Linked DNA regions of Homo sapiens: all the other regions are reported to be linked to region 1. Evidence: microRNA targets listed by miRTarBase, many of them from high-throughput screens and not tested one by one. Region 1 holds a microRNA gene; each other region holds the end of a gene's coding sequence.

Evidence for each region. The annotated mature microRNA hsa-miR-5681a reads AGAAAGGGUGGCAAUACCUCUU and lies in region 1 at 1,173-1,194, shown strand. An mRNA with a match to its seed (bases 2 to 7 or 8) in the 3' UTR can be bound and repressed. Matches are read on the target gene's strand: a 7mer-m8 pairs with bases 2 to 8, a 7mer-A1 pairs with bases 2 to 7 and ends in A, and an 8mer does both.
Region 2: the mRNA of ZFAND3 is a reported target of hsa-miR-5681a. Seed matches in the 3' UTR shown: 7mer-A1 at 702-708.
Region 3: miRTarBase lists CYP27B1 as a target of hsa-miR-5681a. Seed matches in the 3' UTR shown: 8mer at 394-401.
Region 4: the mRNA of DCAF11 is a reported target of hsa-miR-5681a. Seed matches in the 3' UTR shown: 7mer-m8 at 2,572-2,578.
Region 5: miRTarBase lists LINS1 as a target of hsa-miR-5681a. Seed matches in the 3' UTR shown: 7mer-m8 at 1,047-1,053.
Region 6: the mRNA of BANP is a reported target of hsa-miR-5681a. Seed matches in the 3' UTR shown: 7mer-m8 at 464-470.
Region 7: the mRNA of POLDIP3 is a reported target of hsa-miR-5681a. Seed matches in the 3' UTR shown: 8mer at 896-903.

What each region holds. Positions count from the first base shown.
Region 1 is chr8:74,547,415-74,550,509 of GRCh38, forward strand. It overlaps MIR5681A (microRNA 5681a), which reads left to right and starts at 1,129; the gene lies at 1,129-1,203. It overlaps MIR5681B (microRNA 5681b), which reads right to left and starts at 1,195; the gene lies at 1,136-1,195.
Region 2 is chr6:38,152,114-38,155,208 of GRCh38, forward strand. It overlaps ZFAND3 (zinc finger AN1-type containing 3), which reads left to right. Exons shown (of 6, transcript NM_021943.3): 6 at 122-2,511. The coding sequence ends at 276. Among named protein-coding and RNA genes, the nearest start is that of BTBD9-AS1, 330 kb to the right of the region's middle. RefSeq lists an enhancer at 924-1,544.
Region 3 is chr12:57,760,413-57,763,507 of GRCh38, reverse strand. CYP27B1 (cytochrome P450 family 27 subfamily B member 1) reads left to right here. Exons shown (of 9, transcript NM_000785.4): 9 at 253-1,174. The coding sequence ends at 366. Among named protein-coding and RNA genes, the nearest start is that of CYP27B1, 5.1 kb to the left of the region's middle.
Region 4 is chr14:24,122,850-24,125,944 of GRCh38, reverse strand. DCAF11 (DDB1 and CUL4 associated factor 11) reads right to left here. Exons shown (of 15, transcript NM_025230.5): 14 at 2,868-2,974; 15 at 703-2,770. The coding sequence ends at 2,636. Among named protein-coding and RNA genes, the nearest start is that of FITM1, 6.3 kb to the left of the region's middle.
Region 5 is chr15:100,566,493-100,569,587 of GRCh38, reverse strand. It overlaps LINS1 (lines homolog 1), which reads left to right. Exons shown (of 7, transcript NM_001040616.3): 7 at 1-2,664. The coding sequence ends at 350. Among named protein-coding and RNA genes, the nearest start is that of LINS1, 34 kb to the left of the region's middle.
Region 6 is chr16:88,076,392-88,079,391 of GRCh38, forward strand. BANP (BTG3 associated nuclear protein) reads left to right here. Exons shown (of 14, transcript NM_001386991.1): 14 at 199-925. The coding sequence ends at 270. Among named protein-coding and RNA genes, the nearest start is that of LINC02182, 120 kb to the right of the region's middle.
Region 7 is chr22:42,583,333-42,586,427 of GRCh38, forward strand. It overlaps POLDIP3 (DNA polymerase delta interacting protein 3), which reads right to left. Exons shown (of 9, transcript NM_032311.5): 9 at 389-2,636. The coding sequence ends at 2,459. Among named protein-coding and RNA genes, the nearest start is that of POLDIP3, 30 kb to the right of the region's middle.

The DNA of each region.
Region 1 (3,095 bases):
TGTTTAACAAGTAACAGCAGGTCCTTGTTTAAATAGTGATCATTAGTGATCGACTTTAATCCTTCGATTATAAATCTCCCATTTCTTCTTCTCTTCTATAAACTAGCTGACCTTTGTGTGCACATTGTGGATGTGTGGATGGCAGCAAACTGGAATTTGGACTAATTGAGTTGTCAATCAGATTTCTGTGCACTCCATATCACGTAGTTAGTAAGACTGAAATTATGGAAGGTGGTTGATTATTCTAGACATCTGAAGGATTGTTCTGAGCTCAATCAATTTCTTCACCAGCTGTTCTCAGGGCCAAAATGCTGAAAACAGTGGATACCATTTGGGATATGGAAAGGCCAAAGTCAAATCCAACTTGGACTCGGCAAAATAGAAATAGTCCTTTTCCTCATGTACTTTTAAAGTTTAGTCACATTTTCACGATTATAAACTGTTACTTTGGGCAAAGGATTGTTTCCAAGAAGCCAATGAATTGCACATATACAAACAGGCTGTGTTTCGGATCCATTTGTAGGAAACATCTTCTCAGCCCTCTGCCTCTTATAACCCCTGTGGCTCCTTATTAATGCACCTGCAGGAGAGGCACACACTATGTCACTCAGCCCTGGCTGCACCCTCAGGCAGGTGGTGTGTGGGTGCTTTAGCAGCTCTTTGAAGAATGTGATGCAGAACCATGAGCTAATGAGGAGTGCTAGGCACTATCCACCTGCAACTGGAGCACAGTATACTGCTCAGCAAATGTCCACATCTAGCAAAGCGGCTGCCCTTTGTCCACACTCCAATTTAGACAGAAGGCAAATGAAAAAGGACACACACAAATTTTAGTTTTCATTCTCCTTGGAAACATTTCAAAAAACTAAATAAACAACTGCCTCCTCCTGTCCTCTACCTCCAGGCTCTTTGGGAGCAATCCCTTAAGCAATTGACGGTTCTTTGGGAGCAGAAATAAAGAGAAAGTGAAAATTCTGGCTTCCTTTTTGAACTACCTTAATCTGTGAGAGAAAAAAAAAAAACCCTAAGTGATATGATAGATGCAACAAGTCTATGTTTATCGTGATTTATTGTTCACAAAGGGCTTTATATAGATGATCTCATATATTCCTTACAACTTCCTTGTGAAGTTTTTGAAGAGTATTGCCACCCTTTCTAGTCCCTATTAGACTAGAAAGGGTGGCAATACCTCTTCCAAAAACTGAGACTTGTTGATATTAAGTGAGTTGCCTCAGCAGTCAATGGCACTTTAAAATGTGTTTTACCTATTTTGTAGGATTTTTCACATGTTGTTTTTAACAATGGGAAGGGGATAGCCACTAGAGATACCAATATACACTATTCTGAGCCAAAGAAGCCAAGTTAAAACATGCCTTCATGGCACTTGAATTCTTTATAAAGTAATTTTTGAAGTTGAATTGAGACTTCCTGTTTAGAAGCTTGATTATAAACTCTTGGCTAGTTCTCTGACTTGCACACTTGTGTTCTGCTATTCCCTGGTCCTGAGGCCAGCCTCAGTCCCCCAGGGTTTTCTATTTATAGACCTCTTTCCTCTTTACAATAAACCACTTATTACTTTGGGTCAACTTTCAACCAAACAAGTCTCATTCATATAGGGGTCCTAAGTGGCTTCATCCTCTTAAACAAAGGAAAACCAAGATGGAAACAAGACGGGGAGCATTACATTGACTTGTGAGCAGGTAGTGACCAATAACTAGTGGGTTTTCCCAAAAACACAAAACCAAGCAGATCAAGGTGAAAGGGGTGGGGAAGTGGTGCTGACAGTGGAGGAGAGGGTCTGAAATGATTTTCTTGCTTGTCTCCAAGCTCTCAAGATTTGCAGGTACAAGAGCTCATCCAGGGACCAAGTGCCATCTGTTCATTAGAGACCATGCACGCACCATGGGCCTTAGGAAGAAGAAAAGTCCACTGCAAAGGGATTCTAGAAAAACATAGGTATCGGGTCTTATATGCCATCTGGAAAATGCATAGTTTCCATGACTGTGGAAGTAAGAGGGTATCTCACAGGTCAAGACTGTCCAGGATGCTTCAGGGTTTGCTTGTAGTAAAAGTAATTTTTTTTTTTTTTGACGTGGACTCTTGCTCTGTCACCCAGGCTGGAGTGCAGTGGTGCAATCTTGGCTCACTGCAACCGCTGCCTCCCGGGTTTAAGCAATTCTCCTGCCTCAGACTCCCAAGTAGCTGGGACTACAGGTGTGCACCACCACGCCTGGCTAATATTTTGTATTTTTAATAGAGATGGGGTTCACCATGTTAGCCAGGATGGTCTCCATCTCCTGACCTCGTGATCTGCCCACCTTGGCCTCCCAAAGTGCTGGGATTACAGGCGTGAGCCATTGCACCTGGCCTAAAGTAATTTTTTTTAAAAGTTATTTGTTTTAAAACATTTTGTATTAATTACATTTATCGCCATGCTTCTGGAAAAAGGGTGAAAAAACACTTTGCACATTATCTGGGAAATTATATACAGTGTATTGCTGGAAGTAATGGGCTAAGGATCTATAATACAATATTTTTAGTAATTATGATAAAAGGAGAGAATATACACATTATAAGAAACAATACTTTTGGTATCATCTTTATGATAATGGTATTAGAATTTATTGTGAGTTCTGGGGATTCCTATATCTTTTATTTATTATAGTACTTTGAAGTTTTCTTCTAATTCTCTATACCAACTTCCAATTTAAATAAGAGAGAGACAACTAGACACTAGAACTAGGAGAGTTACAATCATTTAGTCAAAACTACAATTTTTATGAGAACTGAGGGTCAGGGAAGTTACATGATTTGCCCAACATCACACATCTTGTTAGAGGAAGACCTGGAACTAAAACTGAGGAAAAGATGCAGTGGATTCTTTTTCCTTTTTTGTGCATAAATTTCTTGAATCTTTTCAAATACGTTGCATGGAAACCACTCAGCAAGCAGGTAAGAAAGGGTGTTTGAAGTACAGGATTCTTTCAGAATGCTACAGCCACTCCAAGTCAGCAATGGCTGCCTCTGGCTGACCTTTAGGCAACTTTTACAATCCTGGCTGCCACCTCTTTGATTTTTTTGTGCAACTTAGTTGT
Region 2 (3,095 bases), not on the chromosome of region 1:
AGTGAGTGTTGTCCACTCACTGGGATGCCCCTCCATCCTCTGGACAAAGGCAATTGTGAGGCTCTGCGCACTTGGAGGCCACCCTAACACACTCTTTCCTCTGCTTCTCCCGCTGCTGCAGGTTATGTGTTCTGTATGTTACATCGCCTCCCCGAGCAGCACGACTGCACATTCGACCACATGGGCCGTGGCCGGGAGGAAGCCATCATGAAAATGGTGAAGCTGGACCGGAAAGTGGGGCGCTCCTGCCAGCGCATCGGGGAGGGGTGCTCCTGAAGGCCAGGCATGGCCACCACGTGACGCTGTTCTTAGTTCACTAATGTTAGCCTTATTTAGGACAAAGTCAGCCAGACACCTTGTACTGGGCACGCGTCAGACTGCAGCCAGTCCGTTTCCTTTCTTTAGCCAGCCATCCTGGTACTGTAGTTTAGGGGTTGATGGTGGTTGAAATTGATTTCTGGCTGGTTACTAAGGTGCCTGCTAGCCATTGTATAAAATTAAAACATGAAGAATATTTTTTTTTTGAGCATGGCTAGTGGATTTAAAACAACACATACCTGTCACTGCTGGAGTCAAACTTATAAAAAGCCTTAAGTGGAAAGTGTTCCAGACGGAGACTCTGAGTTAATAGAGGAGTAGAAGCTGGTGTTAAAGTTCCCACGACGCACATGGCTTTGCCAGAAACTCTGTTTAATGATCGGCCTTTCACCTCTTCACTTATCCTTAGTCCCAGTAGCCAGGATACCTGATGGCCACGTGTGCCTTGGCCACGGGAGGCTGCTGAGATTGGCCACGTGGCTGGGCTGGGTGGTGGCCTCACTCTCCCACAGAGCTGGAAATGGGGGGTGGGGGACAGATTCTTACGGAAATTTTTTTACCTGACTTGCTATGAAAAAACTCATCACACAAGAAGAGAAACAGTAACCTCACTTTGAAAATTAGCTCCACTCAAGACTAGTCCACGAACGAGACCCGCCTTTTCTACACAGGATCCAAGGTCACGAGAAGCAGCCAGAGTGCCCCGCCTCCGCCGGCTCTGGTCTGCCATTCGCCAGTGCAGGGATCTGGCACGGACCAGATGTGGCGAATGGCAGCACAGCGCGGTGGCTGGGTCTGCACACTGGCCTCTGCAGCCAGATTTCTATATTGGGAGTTTTTTAAAAAGACATTTCATAGCCAACAAGAATCAGTAGAAGTGCTGGGAGCAGCAGCTGGGGAAGCTGCCGCCCACGGGCTCTGCCCCTTCCAGCTGGAGCCGCCCGTGCCTCCAGGGGCCAAGAGGATGATGTCGTGGCCTCCATTCTCGTTTCTATGCAGCCCCATAGTCCAAGGACACCCAGTCCACATCTACCATATAGCAAGTTTAGTAAGGGAAGGCAGCATACGTCCCAGGGACAGTGGGTTTGGATCTGTCTAGAACAGCGGTTTGTGGCTGTGGCCCAGCTCCGAGAGTGATATTTGCTCTGGTAGGTGAGGGCCTGAGGGTACATTTCTCCACCTGTGCCCCCTCATGTTCACAGAGGATTTCAGCAGCTGCAACTGCGCACGCCAGGTGGGGAAGGGTGGGGGTGGGCCTGGTTGCCCCATGTTAGGAAATCACTACCAGTCAGGTGGGGCTGGGGCTGGGTGGACAGGATCAGGATTCCCTTGAAAGCCCAGGCAGGGTGAGCAGTCCCAGTGGTCCTAGTGCCGCATCAGATCCAGGTGGGTGAGGGCAGGAGGCCCCTGCGGAGGCAGCGTGGATCTGCCCACACATAGGCTACTGGAATAGTTTAACCCAGCAACTTTCCTTTTTATAAAACAACAAATGGTTCAACTCTGTCTGCAAATTAACAGCTGAACACCTGCAACTGCAAATGTTTTTTGATCCGACGTACTGAAATAGGAAGTCATGCTCTTCCCACCCTCCACCCACCAGAGTGGAACCCGCTGCAAAATCCCCAGCCTTAATTCTTGCTTCAGGACCCAGACCGGTGTCTTGCTCTAGGGCAACCCAGGGCAGAGGGGCCAGGTCTGCCCAGCGTTTACCACTGCTGTCAAGCCACAGCCCTTGGCCACCATACGGGCCATCCTCAGTGAGGCAGCCCCCCATAGGCTTCCGCCAAGCTCTGGTCCCGAAGAGGCTGTGCGAGCCCTTCCCGGCCCTCCCCAGGGCCCCCCGCCCCCTCCTCTGCCTGCTGCGTGGAGGCAGCCATGGGAAGGAGCCCAGGGGAGCTGGCCTGGGGGAGCGAAGCCCATGTTCGCTTCCTGACTTAGAGCTGGGGGGGGTGGGGGGTGGGGCTTGTTCCCCTGCAGTATCTGTTCTGTGAAGTTTGTTAAATGTAAGGAAAGCTTAAATTCTTGTATCTTTAAAAGAGAAAATCTTATTTAACCCTTTTGTGTTCTAGATTTACTTACACACATAGCCTAGAGCTCAGTTTTAGTTTTAACATTGTGAAAATATTAAAAGAATCTTGTAACTTTATTCTTTTTTCTCCTGCTGAAAAAAAAAATTAAACCAATCGTATGAAAGTTTGGTTTTCTTGTTTCACCCCTTCTCCTAAGTGCCCCCTGGGTTGCTGGGAAAACTGACCCATCTCCCTGGCCAGGGCTGGAAAGAGATGGGGGCCTGTGTGCAGAGACCGTCTGCAGTACTTGGAGGCACTCGTCCAGTTAGTGTCCAGGCTAAACAGCCGCTTCCTTGCTTTCTGTTGGGAGCCTCTGCCCTGGGAAGCTGCGGGACTGGCCTTGGGGTAAAGGTGGGTCTGCAGGGCCAAGCCTGTGCCAGCAGCCAGGAGGTTACACACTGGGGGGGATCAGAAAACGAGCCCCAGCCCTGAGGGCCCCAGGCGTGGGTGGGGTGGGTGCTGGGTCCTGAGGGAAGGCAGCATGCCCTAGACCCGAACCCCACCCTAGGAAGGGCCTCCAGGATGGATGACGAAGGCTCCCAAAGGCTGGCTTGGAGGAGGTGTGTGCTGTGGCACTCTTTGGTGTATAGGATGAACTTAACTACATTTTTAAATGTTCAAAAAACATTTGGCAGGGCAGGGGCGAGGCACAGGAGTGGGACCTGTCCCCACTTCTTTTAGGACAGAGATATTGACCGCATAGTTGTC
Region 3 (3,095 bases), not on the chromosome of region 1:
GGTAGAATGAATCTTCTGAAATATGATAAGCCCATTATAGGCCTGGAGTGTAAGTGAGGGTATTCAAACTATTTTTTCCCTACCATAATCCCTCACCCTTATTAACCAAGAAGTCCCCTACTGGCCACAGGTGCCACCCAATCATTGACCATTCTAACACTAATAATGCATGCCCTTTACCAATTGGATTACCAATGAATCCCCCCATTATAGATATCTTTCATAGTAATGCTCACCTTCTTCCCTTTCCAGATCCTAACACATTTTGAGGTGCAGCCTGAGCCAGGTGCGGCCCCAGTTAGACCCAAGACCCGGACTGTCCTGGTACCTGAAAGGAGCATCAACCTACAGTTTTTGGACAGATAGTCCCATGGAAAGAGACTGTCATCATCACCCTTTCATTCATCATAGGGATAAGATTTTTTGTAGGCACAAGACCAAGGTATACATCTTCCCCTAATGCCTATCTGACCAAACTGGATAGAACCACCATAGTGAAGTGTGAGGCGGCCCTGACCAATGTGTGAAGTATGCACTTGGCCTGACTCAGGAAGCCAGGTGAGAAAACCATGGTCTCTCTGCTTGCTTGGCCCTTCTGATCATGTATGCATCCCCCAAGGATGAAATCAGATTTTAACTAATAATGCTGGATGGCCTGAGGAAAGATTCAACTGCCTCTCTTTTTGGGCTTTCATAGTGTTCATTGATGCTGCTGGCTAAGCATTTATCAAAGCATAAGCTCAGTAACTGTGCATCTGGTCTGTACCTGGTTGGTCCTTCGTCTTTGCATGTAAGCTCTTTGAGAGGAAGGGTGAAGCCTTATTTGTTTTTTATGTCCCCTGCCAGGGCCTGTCTCTGACTAGGTGTCACCATACACATTCTTAGATTGAATCTGAACCATGTGGCAGAAGGGATAAGCAGCTTACTTAGTAGGCTCTGTCTACCCCCTTCCTTCTTTGTCTTGCCCCTAGGAAGGTGAATCTGCCCTAGCCTGGTTTACGGTTTCTTATAACTCTCCTTTGCTCTCTGGCCACTATTAAGTGGGTTTGCCCCATCACTTAGTTCTCAGGCAGAGACATCTTTGGGCCTGTCCCTGCCCAGGCCTCTGGCTTTTTATATTGAAAATTTTTAAATATTCACAAATTTTAGAATAAATCAAATATTCCATTCTTGATTTTGACTTATTTCTCTCATATTCCCACTTCCTACAAGACCTGGAGGCAAGACTCTAACCCTCCCATCTCCCACCTTGGTTTCTCAGGTCCTGGGGGTGACCCCCATAACAATGGGAGGTCTGGACGCCTGGAAGAGTAGTTTGTAACACAAACCCAGACATGTTTCTGTCTGTAGTGGGAACATCCAAGTCTAGTCTGGCTTCCTGTAAGAGATTAAGGGGGTGGGGGGTGAAAAGTAACGGCAGGGGCTAAGCTGTAAAATGGGCCCGGAGCTAGGGATTTGCAGACATGGGCAGAGGTTGCTGACTCTGGTAAGGAAAGTGCTTTTGGACTGCCAGGATTGAAGGAAGTCCTAGATTGGTCACTTTGCCCTCTCTGGAAAAGTTGTTCCAAGATAATTTCCTTCAGAGGAAGGGATACAAGCAGAGAAGTGGAATCAGACAGACAGAATGAAAGCTGAGTGTGGGGGTGGCCAGAAGCCCTGGGGCACTGAGGCAGGATAAGGGCGGTGGGCAGAGGGAGACTGTTTCCCTAAGTCAGCATTCTCTGGCCCCCCAGAGGCTGGGCACAGCTCTCCTCTTGTGATGTATACAGATTAACTCATCTTCCATCCAAATAAATCTCTCAGCACACTGCACAGTTCCTTCTGCATCCCAGATTACCCTTCCCATGTCAGGACTTGCCCCCCTTCCCCTACCGCTCACCCTATTCCAATTAGCTGGGTGTAGATGGAGATTTCACTTCACACTTCTTCCTCCTCCACACCTTGGCCTCCTGGCCTAGACATGGCTCCCTGACCGCAGAAACTCCAGTAGCCACCAGGCCTTTTGCAGGGGCATCTAATTATGCAAGATCTACAGAGGGGCAGGGCAGACCCAAAGCCTCGTACAAAGATCAAGGTTTCTGTGCATTTTCTGCCCTTCTCAACTCCTTCCCTACTGTATACTCAGTCTCCACCCCTATTCCTCTATCACTGAACTCAATTTGAACCTAAATGACCAAATTTTCAGCAGATTTGATCTTTGAGGGAGAATAAAGCCCAGCTTGTCAGACCCTTTACCCTGGAATCAGTGATGAGAATTCTGCCCATCCGTACTCCCTATTTTCCACTGGGCAAGTAGGAATGCCCACTTGAAGAGGGCAGCAGTTCCCATGACCCTTTCCTGGACAATGATCTTTTTAAGTTGGAAAAAGGAAGAAGAGGAGACCATACTGATTGCTGGCCCCAACTCCCATACCAAGACTTCCATTAGTGCTGAAGGAGAGGGGAAAGTGTCCCACTTGGCCTCATTTTAGGACCCAGAGTGTAAATGGATACAGTGTGTTTGTGTGTGAGTATGTCTATTTTCTTTGGTATGTCTAACCTTCCCTGCAGAGCCATCACAGAGGACAGCTCAGGCTTGGCACAGGAAGCTCCACATGTGTCCTATCTACCTGAGCCCTATCTGCTGGTATAGATATTAGTAGTCACTCTGATTTGCAATCCCCCATTTGGTCCCCACCAGCTCTTCTGAGAATGGCAAATCAGTAAAGTCTGGCCTTTCTGTCTCCCAAGATGGGGGATATAGAGGGTTCTCTCTCTGGGGAAACAGTTTCCTACTGAGCAGACGGAGGGTTCAGTCTCAGTTCCCTATCCACTCTACTCCCTCAAAAATTGGAAGTTATATACTTCCACACTTTGAAATTACTTGAACCGCAGTCCAGCTTTTGTTCCTACATCCCAAGGCTGGTCTGGATGCCAGCACCATGGACAGCAACCAAGACCCCCTTTGGGAGAGGGGAGGGGACAAGGTTTCCTGGGCAAGGATGTGTGTGGGCCTTTGCAAGGGAAGCATTTTCTCCAAAACATCCCCAGGGAGGAAGGAGGCAAAGCAGAACCTTCCCTGATAGAAGGATCAATAATAAGAAAGGCCTCCAGAT
Region 4 (3,095 bases), not on the chromosome of region 1:
CCCCAGAGTCTCACCCTGTGGCTCAGGCTGGAGTGCAGTGGTGCGATCTCAGCTCACTGCAACCTCCGCCTCCCAGGTTCAAGCGATACTCCTGCCTCAGCCTCCTGAGTAGCTGGGACTACAGGCGCCTGCCACCACACCTGGCTAATTTTTGTATTTTTAGTAGAGACGAGGTTTCACCATGTTGGCTAGGCTGGTCTTGAACTCCTGACCTCAGGTGATCCACTGCCTCGGCCTCCCAAAGTGCTGAGATTACGGGCATGAGCCACTGTGCCCAGCCTAAAAACAACATAACTTTTATATGCACTGGGAAACCAACAAAATTGACTCGCCTTATGCAATATTCACTTTATTACAGTGGTCTGGAAATGAACTCACAATATCTCCTAGGTATGCCTGTACAACAAACATTTTACATTACTTCGATAACATAAAATTATATTGTAAATGCATCTCTTACTGAGAATGGTCGGTCTGTGGGGCTTTGATCTAATGAAGCTATAAGGATACTAACAATTTGAATTTCTCTCTTAATTTGGTGCCCTGGAAGTAACACAGGTTCTGGGTGAGATGGGTAGCACCTTAGGTAACTTTATCACTTGGCAGACGGGGAATGAAAAGCGTGGATGGGAAAGGAGATCTGGCACGGGAGTTTCACACTAGGTAGATCAATTTGAGGAATGAGAACACAGAAGCCAAGGATCTGAACATTTATTTATTTATTATTTATTTTTGAGACAGGGTCTCACTCTGTCACCTAGGCTGGAGTACATTGGCACAATCACGGCTCACCGCAGCCTTGACCTCCTGGCCTTAGGTGATCCTCCCACCTCAGCCTCCTGAGTAGCTAGGACTACAGGCATGCGTCACCACATCTGGCTAATTTTTTTTTTGAGACAGAGTTTTGCTCTCGTTGCCCAAGCTTGAGTGTAATGGCATGGTCTTGGCTCACTGCACTCAGCTCACCTCTGCTCCCAAGTTCAAGCGATTCTCCTGCCTCAGCCTCTCAAGTAGCTGAGATTACAGGCACCCGCCACCATATCCGGCTAGTTTTTTTGTATTTTTAGTAGAGATTGGGTTCCACCATGTTGGCCAGGCTGGTCTCAAACACCTGACTTCAGGTGATCCACCTATCTCGGCCTCCCAAAATGCCGGGATTACAGGTGTGAACCACCGTGCCCGGCCTACTTTTTGTATTTTTTGTAGAGATGGGGTTTTGCCATGTTGCCCAGGCTGGTCTCAAACTCCTGGGCTCAAGCGATCCATCAGCTTTGGCTTCCCAAAGTGCTAGGATTACAGGCATGAGCCACCACACCTAGCTTGTTTATTCTTTTAAAACTGCCTATTTTGCCATGAAATAGGTACCCTTGCTGTGAAAGCCTGTGAACACCCCTGGATGTGTGTACCTTCATTTAAAAACTGCCTTAGAGGGCATGAAATGTCATCAGGGAAGATCTATTCCGAGCTGGGTGTGAGCTCTAGCCCTCTCCCTGACCATCGGTTTGCTCTGGGGTATGAGGTTCTGAGTGTGAGGCGCCCACTGGGGCCTGGCGTCAGGGCCGACTTGCTTCTCTTAGGCTCTGCGTTCAGGGGCTACCTCTTCCAAAGACTACACAGCTGCAGGCCCAGCCTCAGAGCAGAGGTGATATGGGTATTACCAGGCTCTAATGGAAAGTGTGCTCTCTCGATATCTACTTGCAGGGAAGCTTCTGAAATTGGTAAGGGAGCACCTATTGCAAGGCTCAGTGAACAAATGGTTTTGGTATTTCCCTTTTTCATGGGGCACCAGAAGGGTATTTTCTCCTACACAGGATCGCATCTGAAGACTTTGCTGAACTGTGTTTTCCTGAAGTGAGGAGATGAAAGACCTCAGATAGGAAAAACAGAGAGTGAGAGAGAGAGACAGACACTGAGCCAGGTTCCCACACAGTTTATTGAGGGAGCCAAAGCCAGTGAGAGGACGAAGGAGTCCTACTTCAACCTACTTCCTTAAAGCTGTGTGCCTCCAGCATGAAGGGACCTTCCCAGAGGGCAGGGCCTGCCCTATAAGGGGCCACATGAAGCCTTGTGGAGACTCCTGCCTCTCATACCACAGCCTGTCCTACCCTAAAGACCCAGACATGACAGCAGACATAATCCCCACCCCAGGAGGGTGCTGAGGAAACACCCTTACCCATGCCCCTCCCCTAGAGACCTCAGGAAGAAAGGCCAGGACACCTGTCCTGTGATTGGCCAGTTGAATCCTCAACGTGAAGACCTGGCAGGCCTGGCTGACAGGTCTGTTCAGATGTGGCCTCAGGCATCTACTCTAGGATCCAACCCCTAACATTCAAACATGATTAAAAACACCCAGGACACTTCTCTTGCTGGCAGAGGCCACACCCCAGATAATGGCAGTCCTGCCAAACTCTGGCCAGAGATAGGGACCCAAGCTGACTGGGTGTGAGCACGTAAGGAGACCACTCTGCCCCATGGGGAGAATCTTCCAGGGCTCAGCTGAGGCTCAGAGCCCAGGCTTATGTTATTCCCCATCAAATGCCAGTGATTCCTCCAAACATTCCCCACAAGGGAGAAAGGGAGGAGGAGGCAGAGAGCTTATCAAGAGGTTCACCCTATATGGGGCTGGAGGTTGGATCTACTGGGGTGAGGAAAAGGGTGTAGAGGATTGGGGCACTGGGGCAGGGGCGCTGGCACATTCCTCAGATTCTGGCATGTCATCCTGGAAGTACTCAGCCTGGCGGTACTGCCACAGACGCAGGTTCCCGTCCCACTGCAGGGCAGAGGGTGGCAAGCAGTCAGGATGTGCTGCCCCCACCCAAGTCCAAGCCCCAGACATGTGCCAGCACCCTCAACCCTTGCAACCTCACCGAACTGCTGACAATCTTCTCTTCAAAGGGGTGCCAACTGACGTCACGCACACAGGCCTTGTGGTTGGTCAGCTTCTTCACAATGTGGCCACTTAGAAGGTCGTACACTGTCCAGGACAGGCAAGAGTGGAGAGGGACCACCACAAGACATCTAAACTATCCCTCACCTCCCCATGAGTAGCACCACTGACCTGCCTCTCAGGCAACTTCCCATGTTCCCATGGGAGC
Region 5 (3,095 bases), not on the chromosome of region 1:
AGTGTTTAGCTAACAGTAAACAGACATCTTTACACCAGCAAGCAACTAAGGAGATTCAGGATGCAGCTGGGACAAGCAGGGATAAAAAAGAATTTAGCCTTGAGCCTCCATCAAGGCCTCTGGTTCTGAAAGAATTTGATACTGCCTTCTCCTTTGATTGTGAAGTAGCCCCAAATGATGTCGTCTCTGAAGTGGGAATATTTTACAGAATAGTAAAATGCTTCCAGGAACTACAAGATGCCATCTGCCGTTTGCAAAAGAAAAATCTTTTCCCATATAATCCAACTGCACTTTTGAAGTTGTTAAAATACATAGAGGTGATAAGTAATAAAACTATGAACACTTTGTAAAACATTGACATTTTATTTTCCAGGTATTGTTTTTCCTTAATATAAATTATGTCTCAATGAGGTAATAGTATAAAATCATCACCATAAAAGGGTTTTCTTTTTTTTTTTTTTTTTTGAGACAGAATCTCATTCTGTCGCTCAGGCCGGAGTGCAGTGGCGTGACTCGACTCACTGCAACCTCCACCTCCTGGGTTCAAGCAATTCTCCTGCCTCAGTCTCCCGAGTAGCTGGAATTACAGGTGCCCGCCACCACGCCCAGCTAATTTTTGTATTTTTAGTAGAGACGGGGGTTTCACCATGTTGCCAGGCTGGTCTCAAACTCCTGACCTCAAGTGATCCGCCTGTCCGCCCTCCCGAAGTGCTGGGATTACAGGCATGAGCCACTGTGCCCGGCTGGGTTTTCTAGACAAGTTCTTACTTTTTGCCTTATTGGAAGCAACCTAGTGACTGAAAAAGAGACATCAAGTGACAAGTCACTCATTATAGCTATATACCACTGGAGATTTATGGCAGTTCTAAGTGACACAAAATCGGGGGTGGTGATTGCGTTCCTCAGCTAGGGCTGCCGTAACAACTTGCCACGTGTGCCGCAGCTTCAGACACCTGGAATTATCCTCATAGTTTTGGAGGCCAGAATCCAAACTCAGGCTTCAGCAGGGCAATGCCCTCAGGGTCTGGAGAAGAATCCCACCCTGCCCCTTTCTGGCTTCTGGTGGCAGCCAGCCAGCCATGGTGTCCCTTGTCTTGTAGTGGCGTCACTCCAGTTCCTGCCTCACATGGCATTTTCCTGTGTCTGTGTCCAGTTTCCCTCCTACAAGGACATCGGTCATTGGACTAGGACCTACCCTCATCCAGTATGATCTCAACTTGATGACAGCTGCAAAGACCCTAATCCCAGATATGGCCACTTTCATGTGTCCTTGATGGACTTGAATCCAGGAGAGTCACTAACCAAATACAGTTACTATTTCCTTCTGGGGTATTTACACAGAAAGCGATATATTACAAATGTAAAATCTTAGCCGTTTCTTTGAGAAGTGATTATACCTGGCCTACTGTATGAACATGATTCTTTCTAAAAAAAAATTTAATCACTAATTTTCCTATTTAAAATTGTGACATGAATAATTATGTTCCATATTCTTGAGGGGAAGCCGTAAATTCCATTGTAATATGTTTGTGTAATAGGAGCAATAGCTATATTGTGCTGCGAAGTCTGGCATTAAGGCAGTCTAAAATATTGCCTGTACATTTTTTTTTAATGATCTCTTTGCAGAGAAACAGAACAAAGACTAAACCTACCGCACATTAAAATATATATTAAGGCTATGGTATTCGAAACAGTTTAGTACTTAATTCAGGTAGACATGGAAAAATCAGTGGAGCTAAATAGAAGGTTGCCGATTAAAATAACAGCGAAGTACCAGTGTTAGCCAAATAGCAATGCAAAGGTCAAAAGGTTTGCGTTTTAACATGCTGTCGGTGAGGCTATGCGTTAAGGCAGTTTCTACCGTAATTGAAAAAGCACGTCAAAGAATGTGTATTCAAGGATGCCACATAGTTTGTAAAAAATGTTAAGGTTTTAGAGTTTTACTAGAAATACCTGGTAAAGTAAGTCAGAATTTGTATAGTCAGTGGAATGGTAGATGCGTTCTATGCACGTTTGTGGATGTGAAACATCTCCAGTAAAAAACAAGTAAATACATGGGGCTTGCAATTATTTAGGGAAAGAAGCAGGGCGGGAGTAATACACATTCATATATATGCTTTTGTGCATGTATAAAATATGTATGTAAGACTACATAAGAAAGTCATAATAGTGGTTGCCTTGGGAGACAGGTCTGATGTGGAAGACAAAGTCTCATCTTTTTGTACTATTTTTAGTGGGATACATGCAGCACTGCATTAGGATGTTTCAATAACAGACCACATAGTACAGTGGTCCCATAAGACTATCAAGCCGTTATTTTTACTGTGACTGTCCTATGTTTAGGCATGTTTAGATACACGCATACTTACTATTGTGTTACAGTTGCCTACAGTATTCAGTACAGTAACATGCTGTGTACAGGTTTGTAGCCTAGGAGCAATGGGCTATACCATATAGCCTAGGTGTGTAGTAGGCTATGCCATCTAGGTTTGTTGAGTATACTCTGTGACATACATGACATGACAACAAAATTGCCTTACAGCTCATTTCTCAGAACATGTCCCTGTCATGTGACACATGGCTGTTTTTTGATGGAAATAACTGGGAAAAAAAAATCGACTCTTGTTCCTAAGGGTACATAAATGTTGAATGCATTATAACTCATGCTTATGCAGATGTGGTTTTGACTTGTGTTTCTCTATAAGGTTAGCAAGGAACTGTCAGCCCCTCATTACATGTAAAATGAGGGAAAAGCAATCTTACAGATATGCGAAGTTGGTGTTTCAGAATCTCTACATTTATAACTAACTCGAGTGTAAGTCAATTCATCACACACTCACTAAGCCCTGCTCTTGCTAAAGGTGACCCTTGGCTGGTGTGATCACTATCCTTGGCCTTTCTGAGCATCTAAGCGCTATTCCCAGAGTTACTTCTTAAAGGAACACAAAACTATTGATGCATGTCTGCACAGTGAATTCCCAGAGTACAACACAAGAGGAGTCTGTAACCTCACCCCTTCCAGTAAAAGAATATGGAAATACAAGTGAGCACATGGTGCTGTGCACCTGACTTATTTTAAAGCAGAAGAGATACAG
Region 6 (3,000 bases), not on the chromosome of region 1:
GGGTCGTGGGCGCGTCGTTCCGCTGGGAGCCAGGCGTTGTGTACCAAGTCGGGTGAGCCTTGGGGCCGTCAGGGCTCCTTCGCGCTCCTGTGTGCGTGTTTCTCATTCTGCCTTAAAGTCACTGGCTGTTCATGACACCCCCTGGCCATGCAGTGCTGGGTATTTTTCTAGAAAGTCCCTCCTTTCTCCCTTTTGCAGACGGCCGAAGCCCTGCAGCCCACGCTACAGCCGGAGATGCAGCTCGAGCACGGGGCCATCCAGATTCAGTGAGCGGTGCCCATGGCACCAGGAGCCCCTCGCCGGCTCCGCCTACGGCCCGGCCCCCACGCGCCCTGCTCTCACGGCCTCGGCACAGGCAGCGGCTGCACGTGTTCTGCTGAAGTGCGTCTGAAGGCCGCTGCCTCCGCGGGGAACAGCATCCTATCAACTGAAAGAGCAGCCGCCGCCGCCCCCAGCCGGAGACCCCTTTCGTTTGAGTCCTGCTGTTGGTGTCGGAGCACGAGGGGAGGCACGGTGCGGAGAGCGTCGCATATGCGCGGGAAATCAAGAACTATGATATTTTTCTGTTTAAACAGCTTTTTTTAATTTGCTATGGTGTTTATAACAAAAAAGAAAATTTGAAAAAAAAAATCCCAGGGGAGTAGCAGGAGCCCTTTGCTGTGTGCTCTGTCCAGTGTCATGAGACGGGAGCCCTTTGCTGTGTGCTCTGTCCAGTGTCATGAGACGGGAGCCCTTTGCTGTGTGCTCTGTCCAGTGTCATGAGACGGGAGCCCTTTGCTGTGTGCTCTGTCCAGTGTCATGAGGCAGGTGTTTGCAAAGCCAGCTCTCGGTTCCGATGGGGTATTGCTGACCTACTTTTCTAGGGGAAATGCTCTTAAACACTGTAATTATGCATTTCTAATGAAATAAAATGTATTTATGACCACAGCAGCCTTACGCTTTTCCTCCTGCGAGACGGTTCGCCAGAGAGTGCCTGTCCCTGGGGGGTTGGGCTCGCTGGCCTTCAGGCCACGCTGCTGCCCTCTCCACTGTGCAGACAGTAGGTGTGGGCACCCCGGGACAGTCAGTTCTGTTTCCGTGTTGTAGGCACTGCCGAGGGGAAACCTGGTTTAGGACACAGCTGTGGAACTTCTTGTTCTCATAAACCACAGAGTTCTGCCAGCTCCAGAAGGCACAGTCCTGGGGTCCTTAGAGAAAGTTGCAGCCACAGGGGCAGGCCCTACTATTTACAGATTTTTTTAAGGCAGAGATAATATCTGCAAATAGAAGTGCCAGAGGCAGTTGAATCCCTGGTGACCAGCCGGGCCTGGACTGCTTCACCTACACCGTTGTGGCAGTTGCGTTAGGGGCTTGGGAAGGGCCTACGTGAAGCCGTGTTCGCTGACTTAGAGCGGGGCCTCTCTGGGCTTTCTCTGGGAGGAGTTCCGCGTTGCCATCCAGACGGTCGTAGCTCCAGCCTGCTCCACCCCGTCAGGATCCTGGGCTGGGTCCCCTTGGGGGTGAGGGTCTGGGATGAGCTGCTCTCGAAAGGGGGATGGCGCTCATGGGTTCTGCGTCTCCATCGTGGTGGGGCCGCCTCTGAAGATGGCCACCACAAGGAGCCGGGCCGAGGCCTCCCAGGAGGTCACCGGAGCTTGGCCACTCTCCAGGAGACAGAAAGGACCAGCTGGGAGGCAGGGTGTAGAAAGTCAAATCCACACGTGTATGACTGGAATCCCAGGAGAGAATGGAGAGAACAGAAGGAAGATGCATTTCAAGGATTCAGGAAGTAGAATAGAACCCCAAGGAGAAACGAACATCAGTCTCTGCCTCGACACACTCAAGTATCACAGGCAGAGATAATTTTGACAGCAGCCAGAGAGAAAGGACAGATGCCTGCGATGGGATGAAAGCAAGGCAGCAGGCGTGGGCACCCACTGGCCGCTGGGTGGAGGGGGAGCCACTGGTGCAGAGGAGGGAGCTCTCGGTGTGGGGCTGGGTCTTCAGTGAACCTGTTGTTCAGGATGCTAGTGACATGCCACCAATTGACCCAGCAGTTCCACTTGTGGGGATCCACCCCGGAGCTCTGAAGACAGCTGCTCACACATGCACTTGTGCCTGGCTGTGCCCAGCAGCACGGCTCATACCAGCCACAGGGTAGACGCAACCTGGGTTTCCATCAGCAGATGAAGGGAGAAACAAAGCTGACTGTCCAAAGAATGGGACGTCATCCAGCCACGTGAAGGAACAGAACATGGATGCGTGCTGCATCCCGGCCAGCACTCAGAGGAGCTGTGCCAAGTGAAGCCACGTGCAGAGGACCACTTACTGTTTGATTCCATTGATACGAAATGTCCAGAAAAGACAACTGCAGAGAGACCGGTTCGTGGTTGCCAAGGACTGGGGTGAGGCAGGATTGGGAGTGACTGCGAATGGGCGTGGGGTTTCTTTTTGGGTGATTAGAATGCTGTGGAATTGAAAGTCGCTGAATCCTTCACTTAAAAGGGCGAATTTGTTGGCATATAAATTATCTCAAAATTACAAAAATAAAGAATTAGGTGATACTTAAAAAAATGTATAAACAAAAATTGAGGCCGGGTGCGGTGGCTCACGCCTATAATCCCAGCGCTTTGGGAGGCTGAGGTGGGAGGATTGCTCGAGCCCAGGAGTTAGAGACAAGACTGGGCAATATAGTGAGACCCCATCTCTACAAAAAAATACAAAACAATGAGCTGGGTGTGGTGGCACGCACCTGTGGTCCCAGCTACTTGAGTTCCTGAAGTGAGAGTATCACTTGAGCCCAAGAGGTTGAGCTGAAGTGAGCTATGATTATACCACCGTACTCCAGCCTGGGTGACAGGGCAAGACCCTGTCTCACAAAAGAAAAAAAAGCTGTCATTTCCGATGACACCTCCTTTACCGGGAATTGTTAGGAATTTTTCTTGAAGAGCAGGAGTATGAATCCAGGGGAGGTGCCTAGAGTAAGATGGAGCGATGGACAAAGAGAATAATAAACATACA
Region 7 (3,095 bases), not on the chromosome of region 1:
TAGCAAGAATCTGTCTCTATTTTTTAAATAATTAAGTTCCACCCCAAATGTTGAAATCCCTGCAAGATTAAAACCCTTGGCTGGGCGTGGTGGCTCACGCCTGTTAATTCCAACTTTGGGAGGCCGAGGCAGGCAGACCACCTGAGGTCAGGATTTCAAGACCAGCTTGTGCAACATGGTGAAACCTCATCTCTACAAAAATTAGCCAGACATGGTGATGCACGCCTGCAGTCCCAGCTAATTGGGAGGCTGAGGTGGGAGGATTACTTGAGTCTGGCTGCGGAGGTTGCAGTGAGCTGAGATAGTGCCACTGCACTCCAGCCTTGGCAACAGAGTGAGACTTTGTCTCAAAAAAAAAAAAAAAAAAAAAAAAAAGATAACTCAAAGGTAGGAATAACAAATGTTTATTCAGAAATGGATAAGTAATACATAATCACCCTTCATCTCTTAATGCCCCTTCCTCTCCTTCTGCACAGGAGACACAGATGGGTAACATAGAGGCATGGGAAGTGGAGGAGGACACAGGACTAGCCCACCACCTTCTCCTCCCGGTCTCCCAAGATGACTGCTTATAGAGTGGAGGAGGCAAACAGGTCCCCTCAATGTACCAGATGGTCACCTATAGCACCAGCTCCAGATGGCCACGTGGCTGCAGCTGGACTCAATGAAACTCTGTGACAACCAGAAGATACCTGCTTTGGGATGAGAGGGAGGATAAAGCCATGCAGGGAGGATATTTACCATCCCTACCCTAAGCACAGTGCAAGCAGTGAGCCCCCGGCTCCCAGTACCTGAAAAACCAGGTCCTACTGCCTTCTGGATGCTCTCTTGGGCCAGGAAGGGAAAAGTGTGGGAGGAATGTCTTCCAGCTGCTAACGAGAAGTCTGCACCCACTTGAAAGGGTTAGGAGAATAAAAAGCAGCATTCTTTAAAGAACTGCAAGTGGAGCACCACCAGGCCCCTTCCTTGGACTTTCCCGTCCTGGGCAGCCTCAGAGCCTGCACACTGAAGCTGGGTTCAAATCCTGGGTCCTTCCTGCCTGACAGACTGACCCCTGGAAACATGAGTCTCTGGTTTTTTTCACTGGGCTAGCCTCAAGCAAATCTTGGGAGCTCTTGAGTATCTTCGGCATGTGCCTTTTCCAGCACTTGCTACTGATTTTGCAGAGCTCCCAGAACCGTGCTCCCCAACTGGCTCCAGCTCTGCCAGCCTGGATTCTCTTCACTCCCAACCAGCAGGGGACCACTCAGTGACAACACTGGCCTGGTCATTCAGGGACTGCCTGGGCTCTGAAGTTTCGTCCCAACTGTCTGCGCCTATGCTGGGGAAACACCTTGCCTGGTAGAGCTGCCCTGCTCCCTTGACTCCTCCTCCTCTGCCAAGGCAGGAAAATAATCCTCTGGTCATGGATGGATGGGGTCACTCACATAAGTGGGAACAAACAGTGCCCCTTGGTGGCAGCTGGATATATGCCTCCAGGCATCCCTGACCACTGTCCTGTAGACAACTGAGGCCAGAAATGGAGAGCCAGGAACAAACTGACCTCTTCCATTCAAATAAGCTCCAAACCCAAGCACTGCACAATGGGAGGCTGAGCCTTTCAAAGGCCCAACCAGAAGAGAGCTGGCGGCTACACAAAACCAGGGTGTGGTTAAGTGCCAGGCGAGGTGAGAACCGGGAGGGCTCACAACACAGCCCCCTCCCAGCAAAGACACCCAGAAGGGAAAGAGAGCTGGGGTGGGGCATTCAGCACAACTCAAGGAAAAGGGAAAGGTGAACTCTGGAGAACTTCCTCTGGGTGGAGACGACACGGGACTCCAAGCCAAGAGCTTAGATAGACTCTTCCCAGCGGTGCAGCCTCATCCTGCCCTTGCCACTAGTGAGGCCTGGAGCCACTGGGGAGAGGACAAGAGGCCTGAGACCTGCTCCCCACCCAGGCACCTCCACTGACAAGACAGAGGAGCGGCACAGCTCTCAGGCCGACCTGGCTCCCGTCAGGACACCAGGGCTCTCCATCCCCTCCATTGTTTGAAAAGCTTAATACACACAAAGGAAAGGCAGCCCCTCGGCCCCTGGAAAAAGCAGGGTCCTTCAGACAGCCCCCACGCTGCATCCCATGGGGCCACAAGAAAGCCACCCAGAGAATTCAGTGTACCATTTCCAGATAAGAAATCAGCTTGGGGCTGAGGCTCGGGGAGGCACACACTGAAAAACACAAGCCTACCTTGGCGATGAGATGAAGAAACATACTACAGGAAACGTTAACGTAGAGAGAAGAGCACAGGGCAGAACACAACACAGAAAGGCGGGTCCCATCCAGTGAGGAAGCTCTTTATCCCTGGCAACCCTTCCCACAATCAGGGGTCTCCAGTCCGATGGCCCATTGGTCATAAGCTTTGCCTTGGGGAAACAGAGCCACCCTCCTCTGCCCCCACTTCTGGCTGCCTCACTCCCCTGCTCAAAGCTTGATTTTGAATTCTGTGGGCTGCGTGGTCACAGAGGCCCCTGAGGACTTGAAGAGTGCCTTCAGGATGGTGTCAGGGTCCACTTCGGCAGGGGGGTTGGAGGAGGAGGCAGAGTTCACCCTGCGAGGCAGCTCGCTCTCCTTTTTCATTGATGGGCTGTCACTCAGCCGCCTGTGGAGAGCAGAGAAGAGTCAAAAATTCTTGTCAGTTTTTCCTTAGATGGGGAGGGGACCCACCATTTACTGGGCATCTGTCATGAGCTAGGCACTGGGTGTAACACTTTCCATACCCCTTCATCTCATTCCACCTCGCAGCAAACTCAATCACAGCTCACATCAGCCTCCATCTCCTAGGCTCAAGCAGTTCTCCTGCCACAGCCTCCTAAGGAGCTAGGACTACAGGCGTGTACCACCATGCCTGGCTCATTTTTAAAATTTTTTGTAGAGACCAGGTCTTGCTATGTGGCCCAGGCTGTGTTTTTCTTATTTACTGATGAGAAAATGGAGACGCAGGCAGTGCTGTATGTTCTAGGGTTTTGTGGGGTTTTTTTGAGACAGAATCTCACTCTGTCACCCAGGCTGAAGTGCAGTGGCATGATGATGGCTCACTAGTCTCGATCTTCCAGGCTCA